2 linked regions of the Homo sapiens genome follow. The protein of the gene in region 1 purifies or fractionates together with the protein of each later gene. This does not show direct contact. Each region holds a gene or a part of one and is shown on either strand. Other genes may lie near its edges. The genes, in order: MAST4 and LEMD3.

What was found.
Region 2: the proteins of MAST4 (region 1) and LEMD3 fractionate together in Homo sapiens (co-fractionation; one large-scale study listed by BioGRID). This does not show direct contact.

Annotation. Positions count from the first base shown.
Region 1 is NC_000005.10:67,162,838-67,166,656, reverse strand, and holds part of MAST4 (microtubule-associated serine/threonine-protein kinase 4), read right to left. Parts: intron 3,511-3,819; coding exon 1-3,510.
Region 2 is NC_000012.12:65,235,338-65,239,156, forward strand, and holds part of LEMD3 (inner nuclear membrane protein Man1), read left to right. Parts: intron 1-3,164; coding exon 3,165-3,244; intron 3,245-3,331; coding exon 3,332-3,477; intron 3,478-3,819.

The sequences.
Region 1 (3,819 bases):
CCAGCATGCCCCCGGCGGCCTTGGCAGAAGAGGTGTCGCTGCTGGCTGCAGAGGCCTCTCTAACTCCGGCCCTGGTTTCAGGGAAGCTGGAGGAGCAGCTCAGAGACTTTTCCGGGAGGGCCGTGGATCGGAAAGAACTCTGCCCAGTGGCTGAGGGGGACCGTTTCATGCCATTGGGCTTGTCTGCCTCCGTCGGTGGCTTCTGGGGACCGGGCCCTTTCCCTCTGGCCTCAGGGAAGCCCTTCCCCACCCCCGCGGCTGGCCGCTCCGCGCCTTTCAACCGGTTCTCGCTATGCACAAAGGAAAGGCCGGCCTCGAGCTTGTCGCCCTCTGCTGGAGCATAAAGTGCTTCAGTGCATTTCTTCCCTTCCGCCCTTCTGTCGGTGTTGGCGGCCGGCTGACTCGGGCTTTTGTCTGTCTGTCTGTTGTCTGTCTGTTTGCACAGGGTGGGGCAATCTTTCACAGTGGATGGTTTGGGGTGCTTTGGAGACAGGGTTTGCTTTTCACCAACAGCGGACAGTTTCTGGTCCGCTGGCTCACTAGGCCCTGGGTGTCCCGGCCTTGGCAAATGCACAGGCTTCTCCAGCACCTCCAGGGGCCGCCCACCACTGGTGGGTTGTGGCTTGGCGTCTAGAGGAGCCCTGTCAGTGTGCAGTGGGACAGAGGGCCCACCTTCTCCCTGGCCAATCCCATCGCTGGCTTTGTTCTGGGAGCCTGGGGTAGCAGGAAACACATCCGGCCCACTCTTACTGTGGCCCTTCCCCTCTCTGCTAGAGCCACCGAGGGACTGAGTGGCAGGCTCTTTGCCCTTTGTGGCCCCGACACTTGGTTTCTGAGAGGAGAGGGACCGGTCGGGGTGCTTAGTCTTTGGAGGGCCCGGGTCAGGGCCAGGCCGGGGCTTGTGGCTGCTGCTTTCACTGTGCGCAGCAACAGGCTTGGGAGGGTCCTGGGGGCTCGAGCTGGGCTCTGCAGTGCTGGGCTTGGCCCCCGGCTCTCTGCCAGAAGCGTGGCTTGGGGAACTGCAATGCTGCCTGGCAGCCGGGCTGGACAGGTCTTTGGCCGTCAGAGGGGGCGGAGGGATGCTGCTGGGATGCCTTTGTAGAGGCTGCTCCTTCCTTTCAGGTTCCTTGGCACCATCTTTCTGCAAAGATGGGAAACTGGAGAGCTTTTCACTCTTCTCACTCTCAATTCCAGGTGGCTGCAGAGACCGCCTGGCAAGAAGCGCTTCGGGCTTGGGTTCCACGCCACGCCTCACCTTGCCCAGCTCCTTCTCACAGGGAATTCCAGCTGAGTGCAGAGAGGAGTTGTCTCTGGGCGGGGGCCTCGCCTCACCTGGGCCATCTTTGTGGTTCGTTTTCCCACCCGGCGCCCATGCTTTCTCCATGGCCTGGGTCTGTGTATAGAAATCTGGGTGGGTCCTTCCCACAGAGAGGAGATTTTTGGAGTTGTCACTGGTTTTCGCAGTTTCTGGAAAGCACAGTTCCATGGAGGGCTCTCTGCATGTGTCAGCCCTCGCAGCAGAGCGCTCGCTTCTGGCTGTGGGAGGGCCTCTTTCAGACGATTCCCTCAGGCCTGGCTTCTCCCTTGAGGGGGAAGCTTCAGGTGGGAGCGGGCAGCGTGGCCTGGCCAGGTCAGGGCTGTGGAGGTTCTGCCCCAGGCAGGTCAGAAGCTTGGGGTCAGTGGTGTGGTCTTGGTGTTTAGGGGAGCTGCCCTCTCTCTGTTGGGGATTGCTTTCCATGACTGTTCCAGGGCTCCTGGCAGTAGGATGGGGACCTTTCCTGTCCCTCTTGAACTCTGGGTCAGGCAGGGAAACTGCTGGTGAATTCTGGAGACCTCGGCTGGGGGGCAGGAACCAAGGCTCCAGCAGGTAGGATTTATTCATCTTTAAGCTGGAAGGAGAAAGCTCTCTTGCACTGGTGGTATCGTTCTTTTTCCCACTGCTGCTGGGGAGAACTGGTGGCACAGAGGCCCTCACGTCACCACTTGGGCTGGGGCTCTGTGCAGACTCTGGGGAAGGCAGTTCTGTCTTGGAGGCCTGAGGTCCGGACAGGAGAGCAATGTCCAGAGTGCCCTCGATCGGCTTCAGGCATGAGACAGACCTACCTTCCAGCTTATACTCGGAGGGGCTCTTCCTAACAGGGGACTCAGGAGCAACCAAGCCAGGCTTCTCCGTTCCACTGTCCACCCGGCCTGTTAAGGCCTTGAGGGGAACAAAAGAGACGGCACTCATCTGAGCTGCATGGGTGCTGCTGACAAAAGCTCGGCTCTCAGAAGCCGGCGGGGGCTCCTGCTGCCCACCCGTGGGTCGGACTGGGTTCCCTGGCAGGCATTCGTGGGAGCCAGCTGTCATCTTGGGCTTCAGCACAGGGCAGAGGTTGTCCTCTTTGTCCTCAAGTGACATTTTCTTTCGGAGGTAATCGATGTTGGCCAGCTTGCTGTCTAACTTTTCACATCGGAGAAGCTCCTTGGCCTGGGAGGACTTCTCCGTGCCTTCCCCCTTCCCAGAGATGCCCCTGTCGAGGGAGTGGCAGAGACCATCCTGGAGGGTGCCAGGAGCGGGGGCCCGTCTGAAGTCCCCGCCACCCTGGCGGTGCTCCGCAGGCACCCGGCCATCCGACATCGCACCCTCGCTGGCGCGCACGCTGGCCTGCTTGTGAAGAGCATCCTTCAGCAGGCTGCCCAGCGGTGGCGCCTCCTGCATAGACGCTTTGTTTTCAAAAGTACTTGACCTTTCCACAGCCTTCGGATAGACTTTCTTCTCTCTCTCTTCCAGCTTAAACAGAGCAAAGTTTTCCAAATCACTCCCGGGTCCATGGGATTTCTGGTGGGATTCCTGTTTCTCTGGGAAGCCGTCTGCTTTCTTCACCACCACCTTGGCCTTCAGCTTGTCGCGGTCCAGGTCGTCCACAGACTCCTGGCGGCCCACCTTCCGGGAGACTGGGCGTTTCAGGCAGCCTTGCTCCACTGGCCGGGCGCGGCTGAGCGGCGGCACGTCGCACACGTTCTCATCCAGGCTCTGCAGCGGCGCCTCCCGCTGGGACTGCTCCCGCTGCACCTCCTCTTGGGTCACCTCCAGGCTGTGCTTGCGGGAGCACAGGTGCTTCTTGTCACTGCCGTAAGAGGGCGACAGCTTCTCCTCGGACTGCACGCGCTTGAGCAGCGGGGACCTGGGGGGCTCCGCACTCTTGGGCCTCACGATGTGTCTGACGATGGTGGGCGGGGAGTGCATCTTGCTGGGAAAGGCTTGCGCGATCTTGGAATTGCCCAGTGAGTGTCCCAGAAGAGGGGATGGTGACCGCTGCGGGGAGGTGGGTTGCGGGGTTGGAGAGGGCGTCCGGGCCAGCGGGGACAGTGGGATGTTGCCGGCGGACTTTCGCCTTCCGGACCGGTACCGCTGCCCGCCGAGTTTGGGTGCAAGACCGTGGAGAGTGCTGGGCCGGATGTGCCCGGACCCTGCTGGGGAATTGGGGGCACTAGAACTAGGGGAGCTGCTCTGGGAGGAATTAGTACCTGTGGATGGAAAACAGAAGGCTGTGAGCATCCATGGTCATTTTCCCCTTTTTTTCACAGTTGTAGCCCAGACTGTATTAGGTAAGGCCAGGTAAGATCAGCAAATTGTCTCAGCATTTAGCTAGTGGAATAAACACTTTTCAGATAAACCTCTCCAGGCCAAGGTTTAGCCCCATACTTCTTGACTTATTTGTTTGGTCAGAATAGCCACATCTTATGACCTCTCTATAAATCTGTCTTTATAATTTACACCTTCAACCTGCTTTCTTTCAGCTGGAACAAGCTTCATGTTTTTTGGGGACCTCACAT
Region 2 (3,819 bases), on another chromosome or scaffold:
TGTAACTTTATTGCATAATATTTTAAAACAATATTAAAGCAAATAAAAATCACTTGTATCCTCATTCTTGTGCTACTCATATGAGTACATATATTTTATAATTATAAATACAGTTGGCCCTACGTATACATGGGTTTTGCATCCATGGATTTAACCAACCGTGGATCAAAAATCTTAGTGGCAATAAAAAGAAAAAAAGTACAATGGAAAAAATACAGATTTTAAAAATACAGCTATCTATATTCATTTATATTAGGTGTTATAAGTAATCTAGAAATGATTTAAAGTATAAAGAATGATGTGCATAGGTTATATGCAAATACTATGCAATTTTATATCAGGGACTTGAACATCTGTGGATTTTGGTATCCATGGGGCATCCTGGAACCAATCCTCTGTGAATACTGAGGTATGACTGTATATATAAATTAAATGTTGTAGTTTTATTTTTTTAAGCAGATAGCTGTTTAGCTCTCATCATGATTATTTCTAAGTTCATAATATCCATTGAAATGATCTCATATATAAACCTTTTTTCAATCATTAAATACATTGTCTGCAATTTTTTTGATGTTTGTAAATGCTATAATAAACACCCAAGCTTAAAAAAACAGATGGCCTATAGTTATCTTCACCATCTTAAAAATCCTAATAGTAGTTTCATGTAATGATGCCTAACAAGATTAGTTCTGCTTTATAAAACTTTTTATTACATTTGCAAATTTGATACATTAGAATAACTTACCAGTTTTATATTAGGAAGTAAACTATACTGATCAAATGAAAACCTTATAATTTCCAATGCTGTTGAAGAATCTGTTGATAAAATACAATAGGACACTTCTTAGAAAAATCTTTTTTTTAGAGAGAATTTGAAATGACTTTTTATTTCTGTTTTTAGAAATTCATTTTTTCCTCTACGAGCCAGGCACAGTGGCTCATGCCTGTAATCCTAGCACTTTGGGAGGCCAAGGCAGGCGGATCACTTGAGGCCAGCAGTTCGACACCAGCCTGGCCAACATGGCGAAACCCCATCTCTACTACTACTAAAAATACAGTGATTAGCTGGGTGTGGTGGCACACGCCTGTAGTATCACAGTTACTTGGGAGGCTGAGGCACAAGACTGTGCTTGAGCCCTGGAGATGGAGGTTGCAGTGAGGCGAGTTCGCACCACTGCACTCCAGCCTGGGTGACAGAGCAAGACTCTGTCTCAAAAAAAAAAAAAATTCATTTTTTGCTCAAAAGGGACATAAAGACATACTAATAATACAAGCTCCATGAACACAGGGAATTTTTCACTGTGTTGTTTATGCTGCACCTCTAGTTTCTAAAATAGTACTTGGCACATGGTAAAGGTGTTTATAACAGTATTATATTTGATAAATTTTTAAAAATTGGACATATTCTAAATGTTCATTAATAAGGTGTTGATTAAAAGTATAGAATAATCATACAATGGAATACTATTTTGTTGAAAAAAATAGGGTTTTTTCCATGTAAACTGACATTGACACAATATTTTGTTCCATGAAGAAAACAAGTAGAACAGTAGTATGTGTAATATGATACCACATTTATTTTTACTATTTTAATTTAAAAATACTCTACCCACACATAGCAGTTCTTAAGCTTTTTGGTTCCCTATAATTACTGAGGACTCTGGCTTTTGTTTGTGGGAGATATACATTTATATGTTTTTGTTTCTATTAGAAAGATATATTTACTTTCTAATGGTAAATATGTATTACAAATACATGTTTATATTAAAAATTAAAACTGAAAAAAATTTATGTATTTAGAATAAGAAAAATGAATCTATTATATGTTAACGTAATGTATTTTTATGAAAAATAACTTTTCCAGAATGAAAACATTCAATGAGAACAGTGGCATTGTTATATATTTTATAAATCTCTTAAATGTGTAGCTTAATAAAAGGTGACTGGATTCTTATCTGCTTCTTTATTCAATCTGTCATGATGTTTTAGTTGAAGTATGTCATGAAAATCCAGCCTCACATTGATATGTAGTCAAAACATTGGAAAGTATTTTAGTTGCCTTTTCAGGTAATTGTAGATAGATATTTTCTTTGATACCATACCAAACCTCTATAAGTAGTAGTTTCTTAAATGTTAGTTGCAATGTGGAATGTCAGACTGTGCCAGTGAACTTTTTGTACTCTTGTCTCATAAAATCCTTTTATTTTGTACTTTGAATGGATCTTTTACCTATGCGTGATTGGTTTTTATAAAAATCAGAATTTTTCAAATGCATTGGTCATTTTCAGATGCATTGGTCACATTTCATTATTCCATATCAAAAAACTGCATTTGTTAATGTCACACAAATCTCATTGGAAAGGTCTTCAAGTATTGTGAAGTTGTCCAGGTCACAAAGATGAATGCTAGTTTTTCAAAATTCTACTTTTTACTTGAATGCTCAAATCTTATAATTGGTAACCCGGTCAGTTTTTCTTTAGTTGATAGGCTTACTGCTTTTATGTGTTGAGAATACTTGTCTGTGAAACATCCAAATCTGGAAGAGTTTGCCATTTATTTGTTCATCTATAAATAATATTGCATTTTTAAAAGTGGTAAATTCACTCTTATGATGGCACTGATAAACTAATGATAAAAAAAGAACTTCCAAGCCAGGCGCAGTGGCTCATGACTGTAATCCCAGCACTTTGGGAGTCCAAGGCTGGCGGATCACTTGAGGTCAGGAGTTTAAGTCCAGCCTGGCCAGCATGGTGAAACCTCGTCTCTCTAAAAGTACGAAAAAAGAAAATTAGCTGGGCCTGGTAGCTGATGCTTGTAATCCCAACTACTTGGGAGGCTGAGGCAGGAGAATTGCTTGAACCCAGGAGGCGGGGGCTGCAGTGAGCCAAAATTGTCCCACTGCACTCCAGCCTGAGTGAGAGAGACTCAGTTCCCAAATATGTAAAATATAAAAAAGCAAAATATTAACACTGATTATATTGGAGTAGTGGGAAAATGCTAACTTTTTTTTTCTTTTTTCTCATTCTTTTTAAAATTTTCTGTAATGAATATTTTATGTTATGTAGTTAAAATAAAAATGTTATATAGAGTGTGTTATAAAGGATACTTTACAGAGAGTCGAATGTAGATTAAGAATAGTTATTTTTCTCTATTTTTCTTGTTAGGATTTAGGTCCTGAATATGAAGGTATATTTAACACTTCATTGCAGTGGATCTTAGAAAATGGAAAAGATGTTGGAATAAGGTAAAGGATCTGATTTCCACTTTGACCATTCTGTACTGGGAGAAATGGTTTTTGACTTTAAATTCTACCTTACTTATTTTTAAATAGGTGTGTTGGTTTTGGCCCTGAGGAAGAATTGACAAATATAACTGATGTGCAGTTTTTACAGTCCACAAGACCACTGATGTCTTTTTGGTGTCGTTTTCGACGTGCTTTTGTTACTGTAACTCACAGATTATTGTTGTTATGCTTAGGTAAGTTGTAAAGATAAGAAATGAGATAAATTGCAGCCTGAATTTTTGTGTGTATTTCACTAAATGCCAGAGTTGAGAATTCATTTTTGTGATGGTTGCCACATAAGTCACAGCTAGATGTCTTCACTAAATATAATAAAAATAATGTCAGAATCATTCTAAAGGCTTAGAAAGCAGTAATATAAGGAGAGGTAGAAATAAAACTTTGTTATAAGACTGTCACAGAAAAACAAGTGTGGTCAGTATATACATAGAAATCTACTTTAGAAAGTAGAATTGAAAAATACAAAAATTGAGCTTATTTTTAAATAATAAAGTGTTATAAAGTTTATTAAAATTTAG